2 linked regions of the Homo sapiens genome follow. The protein of the gene in region 1 interacts with the protein of each later gene in a pairwise test. Each region holds a gene or a part of one and is shown in the gene's direction. Other genes may lie near its edges.

Region 1 (3,915 bases):
GGAGAGCATAGGAACAGTAGTCAAGGCTGAGGAAGATTAGCGGTATTGGGGCAGGTCTTGTAGGACCTTGTAGGCCACGACAAGAACTTTGGCTTGTACTCTTAGTGTGAAGCCATCTGAGGGATTTGAGCAGAGCATGACATGAGTTGACTTTACACTGTAAAAATACTGCCCTGGCTGCTGTGCTGGAAATAGACTGAAGGAAGCAAGACAGAAGCGGTGAGGTGAGTTTGTGGAATCCCAGTAAGGATGAAGGCGTGATCCGACTCTGGATATGTTGTGAAGCTTTAATTGACAGGTCAGGTGTGGAATCAGAGAGAAATCAAGAATGACACTAAGGTTTTTGGCTTGAACAAAGGGAGGATACAGTGGGCATTAATTGAGATGGGGAACACTCTCAAAGGAGCTGGTCTGGAAGGTGACTATCAGGAGTTGGGCTTTAGATGTGTGAATTTGAGTTTCCTGTTAGGCATTCAGGCCATGGCAAAAAGGTTAAGAAATAGGCCAAAGAAATTGATAGACATTTCACCAAAAAAGGATATACATATGTCAAAAAAGCACTTGAAAAAGGGTTCAACCTCATTAGTCATCAGGGAACTGCAGATTTAAACCCACCACAGGATGCTCCCATATGCCAGTTAGAAGGGCCAAAATAAAAAATACTGATGTGCGGGTGCTGATGAGGTCACAGCAACTGAACTGTCACACATTCCTGGAGGGATGGATTGCAAAGTGTATGGTCACTGTGGAAAACAGTTTGTCCATTTATTATGAAATTACCACATGACCCATCAGTCCCATTCCTGTGTATCCTGGATACATGAAAAGAGGTTTACACAAAATCCTGTACACGAATGTTTATGGCAGCTCTGTTCATAATATCCAAAACCCAGGTGCTCATCAGTGGGTGTCTGGATAAACAAGCTGTGGTACATCCATACACTGGAACACTACTCAGTAGTGAAAAAGAACAAACTTGCTGCATGTTGCAACCTGGATGAATCTCAAAAGCATGGTGCTGAGTGAAAGAAGTCAGCCTCAAAAGCTTCCATAGTATGTGATTTCATTTATACAACGACAGTATAGTGCTGGCCAGCAGATCAGTGGTTGCCAGAAGTGGGGGGTCAGAGATGGATGACTCTAAAGGAGAGCACAGGGGAATTTTGGGGGATGCTGTCTTTATCTGTACCCTGATTGTGGTGCTGGTTACAAAAATGTAAATATGTTAAAATGCATAGAAGTGCCCCCCCCACCCCCCGCCCCAAGTCAGTTTTACTGTGAGAATTTAAAAACTCAAAAGAAAAAAGGTGGAAGGGTGGGTATTGGGTCTGCTAGGATTGAAAATTGATGGTACAGAGAATCACTACCCACAAAGGAGTCTGGAATTGTTCTGTAGCAGTTTGGTTGGAAGCTGTGTTCAGGGCTTGAGGCATTCTGTCTGACTATATGTTTGGTACACGTTCATGTTTTTCTTTAACCCAAGCCCCAGGTCCCAGGTTCCAGGGGACAACAGCACAGATTTGGGATTGGTTATCTGATGAACAAGTACAAAAAGGTGCATCTCACACTCACATATGTCTGTGAGTTTGTCTGTCTCTCGTCTAGTTCACTGGATGAGTTAGTCTTTGGTTGAGTTGCGGAGTGAAACCAACAAACTCTAAGGGATTTTTGAGTACAGGCCCCATAAGCCCAGTGGCCTGGCCATGCTCATTGTCCCAGAGAGCAAATGTTAAATAAGGGAATGCTAGGAAGTCACAGTAAGTCTCCTGACTGTCTTAACGTCTGCTGTGTTGGGTTAGGTGGAGTGATCAATCTTTGAGATTTATCTCAAAGGATAAAGATTGCTGTGCTGTTTTACAGATTTTTCAAAAGGAGCTCTGTTATGCCTTTTTATTAATGATTCATATTATGGTACTTGTGTATATTAAGTGCTTCCTGTGTGCTAGGTACTGTGCCAGTTTCATTATTTCTACAGGTATTTATTGAGAACCTACTAAGTTTAGGCACTGTACTTGGCACTGGAGACAAAGTGGAAGGGACAGCCAAGTAACCACACAAATAAATGCCAAATGACAACCATGACATAATGTTGAGTGATACAAGCCACACACAAAAGTGCATACTATGATTTCATTCATGCAAAGTTCAGAAAGGAGGCAGACCCCTCTCAGAAGTCAGAGGAGTGTTTCCCTCAAGGAAGAGTGCTAGTTATTGACAGAAGGGGTCAGGGGAGAGACCTCTGGGTGCCTGGTTCTCTATATCCTGATCTAGGTGGTTCCACAGCTGCATGTCTGTAAAAATATATTGAGTAGTATGCTGTGAGTTATTCACCTGTGACAGCTGTCAGGGCTGTAGGAGAGTGTAATAGAGGGGTGTGATGGGGTCACGGGTGTCCAGGCAGAGTCCTACCTGCCTTATCCTTGTCTTGGGTCAGTATGTCCCCCAGTGTTGCCTCTCTGGGGCCCACACTGGGTTGGTGTAGCCATTGCCTTGACTACCATTTCCCTCTAACATGGGGAGCTTGGTCTGAGGTTCTTGGCTACTGTATTTTGGAGCCAGCACAGTCTTTCCTTAGACATAACCCTGAGCTGATTTTGTTTTCTGTGTTGTGTGTGTGTGTGTGTGTTTGTGTGTGTGTGTTTGCATGTGGTGTTGTGTGCAAACCATGTAGATGTAAAAACTAAACATTTACTTAGAGTTAGGCAACCCTATGTTATTTCACTGTGAACGTCTTTGTGTTTTGGTGCATTCAGGCCTCTTTTTCCTTAGATTTTTGTGTCTATTTATTTCTGAAATATCATTAGCCCTACTTTCAATTATATTGTAAGATAAGCATGACTCAAACATTTTAACCTTGCTTCAGAGTATTAGAATTTTTAAAAGGTGAGCCCGTGGAAATCCATAAATTAGGTTTTTTAAAAATGAATAACTCATACCCTTTATGTGTTTATTTTATTTGATAAACCAGAGAGAATTATAATGTTCAAAAGAAAGGAAGAAAAAGAGGTTGCTGGTTGACCAAAGTGATTGAATTGGTAAAGTTTGGAGAGGGGAGTTTCCTAAGGCGGGCCGGAGGGCTTGGGCGAACAGTTCCTGGAGTTTCATCACTCCCGTGGGCTTGGCTTTCTTCTCGGTTTCTGGGAAAATGATGGGAAGCTGAGAAGAGCTGGCTTCTTTCATTTCTTCCTCTCCCTAGATTGTCAACTTTCTTTTCAGTAACCTGGGTACAAGTGTTAGGGGAAAATTCTTTGCGTAATTTAGAGCTTAATGGTATTAATAGTAAGTATTGCAGGTTGTATTTCAAATTGCCATCTGTACTTCTACTGATAACTGTTGTGAGGGGAATGCTGGGATTCATTAACTTGGAGATTCCTTAAGCTCATTTCACCCTCTTGTTCTCCTTTTCATTTTCTTTTGGACAGGTCTAAAAGTGATGGTGAAGCATTTGCCTAGTCATTCTTGTCTAGAGCCAGCTTCTGTGGTCCTGAAACCCAAGGGTTAGTTCAGGTGGTGTCATAAGCCAGTGTTAAGTTGCACAGCTATGAGCATTTGAAAAAGTGACAGTGTAGGCTGGGTGCAGTGGGTCACGTCTGTAATCCCAGCACTTTGGGAGGCGAAGGCAGGGGGATTGCTTGAGGCCAGGAGTTCAAGACCAGCCTGGGCAATATAATGAGACCCCATCTCTACAAAAAATATTTTAAAATAAATAAATAAAAAATAAGAAAGAAAAGTGACAGTGTGAATGCTCCCATTGTTTCCTCAGCCAAGATGTTCCGAAGGGTGCTCACCATCGTGCAGGCCCACTGTAAGCTGGGTTTGACTGCGACCCTCGTCCGCGAAGATGACAAAATTGTGGATTTAAATTTTCTGATTGGGCCTAAGCTCTACGAAGCCAACTGGATGGAGCTGCAGAAT
Region 2 (3,409 bases), on another chromosome or scaffold:
AGAAGAGGAATAATTCCCTGAGAAGGTAGTGATTTCATCTAGATAGCCACTCTCATACTTGAAAGCTTTCAAGACAAACTAAAGGATAGAGGGTAAATTCAGGGCAGTCTTAGCTCCAAGAAGCAGCTGATAACAAAATATTAATTCTCTGCCATCTTGCAAAGAAAGTCAAGGAGAGCGAGAGGACAGACTGAGAATGGCCACGTGAAGCCTCGCCAGAATGTTCCCAAAGCTCCTCCCCTAGAAGGTATGAGAACGTAGCAGGAAAAGTCTCAAGGATCAAGCTCCTTCCAGAGCCCGTTTTCAAGAAGCTGTTAGCACGCACACCCCCTTTCTTGCCTGTGTATGATTGTATGTAAGTGTGGTAGTTGAGTGTTTTTATAGGTTAAACCCGTAATTGATGTGGAGGGTAGTAGTTTGTTGCCAAGTTAATATTTAACGAACCAATCTTCCAGTATCAAAGTTTTGCTGTACTTGAGAAGCAAACTTTATATAGCTTCATATATATACAAATTACATGATTTAAGCAGCCCGTGAAATAAAAATTCCAGCATTTTCTGTCTTCTTCTGTTAAGTATATGAGTCAAAATTGAAATAATTCCTATATTTTTGCTTCCCTTTATAAAGGGTTTTCTAGAACAGTCTCAATTTATTATCTTGAATGTTGCTCTCTTGAAATCTAAGCCTAATGTGAGCCTTTTCCATCTGAATTCCCAGATCTTAATTCTGTGCTAACCTGACTTCTATTAATTTTGGGATTAGTAATGAATTTCAGACAAATAGAAAATGTCATTTTAAAAAGGTCATTAGCCATAATCAGTTGTATATTTTCCCACAGCACACACAAAGCCCATTATTGGACTTTCTGAATTTCCAGGTTAGAAATTAAGCTGTTAATTATTTTAAGTGACGCCAGATACTTTTCTAAATACAGCATTTTTCACCTTATTTTGGTAGGTAGGTAGGTCTGAAGGCCATCATAGACATAATAGCCACTTTAAAATATTATGATCCATAGATTTCTGAAATCCTAGAGTCTAAGGTATTGATTCTGATTATACAGTGAGGCTGTAGAAGTCATGGAAAGCAGTTTATCATTAATTCTTAGAAACTTGCTAGGGGTGTGTTTCTTTTCATTTTAATAGGTTGATTGTCTAGACTTACACTGCCCAGTACAGTAGCTGCTAGTCACATGTGGCTATTTAAATGTAATTTTAAACTAAATATAATTAAAAATGTAATACCTCAGCCACATTTCATGTTCTAGTGGCCACCATATTGGGCAGCAGATACAGAACATTTCCATCATCACAGAAAGTTCTATCTGACACCGCTGTTCTAGATACTTAGGGAATTTGACTTTTATTTGTCTTTCCAGGAAGAGAGACATCATGCAGAATATTGTACAGATTTTGGAATCGGTACAGTTGAAATGGGAACTTTTTCAGAGCTGGACAGACTTTTCAAGGCTCCATCTTTCTAATAAACTGGCCATTTTTGGAATTGGTTATAACACCCGTTGGAAAGAGGATATCCGTTACCATTATGCTGAGATCAGCTCCCAGGTGCCCCTTGGCAAGCGACTTCGGGAGTACTTCAACTCTGAGAAGCCTGAAGGACGGATCATTATGACCCGAGTGCAGAAAATGAACTGGAAAAATGTTTACTACAAATTTTTAGAGATCACTATTAGCGAAGCTAGGTGCTTGGAGCTGCACATGGAAATTGACTGGATACCCATTGCCCACTCCAAACCAACTGGTGGGAATGTTGTTCAATATTTATTGCCTGGGGGTATTCCTAAAAGCCCAGGCCTTTATGCCATTGGCTATGAAGAATGTATTGAGAGGCCCCTCTCACCACACATGGAGCAAAGTTCCCTGGACCCAGGAAAAGAGGGCCGGGTTGACCTGGAAACCCTTTCAGCACAAGCCTCATTACAGGTGGAAATAGAACCCACCCGAATTATCTATTGCTACCTCGGGATTGCTGAGGTCAGGACTCTACAGCAGTGCTTATTTTTACATTTCCAAGCGAATACCAAAACCTTCAGCAAAGATTGGGTTGGTATTAACGGGTTTTTGTCTCAGAACTGTATTGTGGATCCCGGAGTTTCCCCCAAATCCATCTACATCAAATTTGTAGAAGTAGAGAGGGATTTTCTTTCCGCAGGCTCTTTAGTTGAGTGCCTGGAAAAAGCCATTGGATACCCCTTAAAATTTAACAACTGAATGTCATCCTTCATAAGGATTTGGGCTCTTAGCTCCTTCTTCTCTACTCACTTCCCATTACCCGGACCACCCCTCATCCAGATGCCGCCGTCAGACTCTTCATGGAAACCCTTTCTTCAATTGGGCCAGTACGACTTCTAAGGAATCATAGTAGACTTGGGCCAGAAAAAACAGACCTCACCTGAAAATGCTCATTTTGAGCAAGCAAGATATATAGCGAACTTGCATGGTGGGTCAGCTATTTCTTTTTTAAAAACAGAAAAACAATTTTTAAATGGATTTTAGAGCCCTAATATAAACAAATGTAGGTACATTCCATATTGGACAAAACTTATACTTTGAGTTTCATATGAAATTGAAAAATTGTATTTTTTTCACAATGTTTCATTTTTACACATCTCTATGTCTCTATATAAGTAATATTTACAACCCTGAATAAATAAGCAATAGATAATGGCAAGTTAAATCTTGATTCACAGTTAAAAAGACTTTTTCAATATCACCCTTAGCTACTATTGTATATAATTTAGATTTTCATTTTTTTCACCAGCCAAGTGTTTTGCTATTTCCAATCAGTATTGCTTGCAAAGACCTTTGTTTCTGTGATGTACCAACTTTACAGTTGTGTTGCCATTTAAACCTTTTTTTAAAAAAAAAAAATTAAAGTAATTCCTGGCCCCTTGGCGTACTAGTTGAGCTTTTTGTAGCAGAGTGTGGCTGCACTGGCAGTGGGGGCTGCGCTCTGACTTGACTGCTAAGAATGAAGAGAACAAACAGAGCAGGGTATCTTCACATCCTTTCATTCTCTATACCTCACTGACCAATGTCATTATTTACTGTCAGAGTACCAAAGGTCACTGAACATCTCATTTTGTAATTCTTTGAAAAATGACTAAAAATGACTAGGATAATCCTTTTGACCCTAAGTACATCAATTTGTAAGAGACTCATTCCTCATCTTTTACACTCAGTACTCAGGGGCAGCTCTCAAGGAGTACAACTGGAAAACTGATGTAATCTTGCTATCTCTCAAAAGGAAGGAAGATCCAGTAGAAATTTTTTTTTTTTTTTTTTTTTTAAGACAGGGTCTTGCTCTGTCACCCAGGCTGGAGTGCAGTAGTACAATCATAGCTCACTGCAGTCTCGAACTCCTGGGCTCAAGTAATCCTCCTGCCTCA

What was found. The genes of interacting proteins can lie anywhere in the genome.
Region 2: the proteins of ERCC3 (region 1) and MSANTD2 interact in a two-hybrid assay, tested with the Homo sapiens proteins (one large-scale study listed by BioGRID and IntAct).

The regions. Positions count from the first base shown.
Region 1 is NC_000002.12:127,280,480-127,284,394, reverse strand, and holds part of ERCC3 (general transcription and DNA repair factor IIH helicase/translocase subunit XPB), read left to right. Parts: intron 1-3,763; coding exon 3,764-3,915. UniProt on the Homo sapiens protein: ATP-dependent 3'-5' DNA helicase/translocase. Binds dsDNA rather than ssDNA, unzipping it in a translocase rather than classical helicase activity. Component of the general transcription and DNA repair factor IIH (TFIIH) core complex.
Region 2 is NC_000011.10:124,765,998-124,769,406, reverse strand, and holds the end of MSANTD2 (myb/SANT-like DNA-binding domain-containing protein 2), read left to right. Parts: intron 1-1,378; coding exon 1,379-2,231; 3' UTR 2,232-2,909; downstream 2,910-3,409.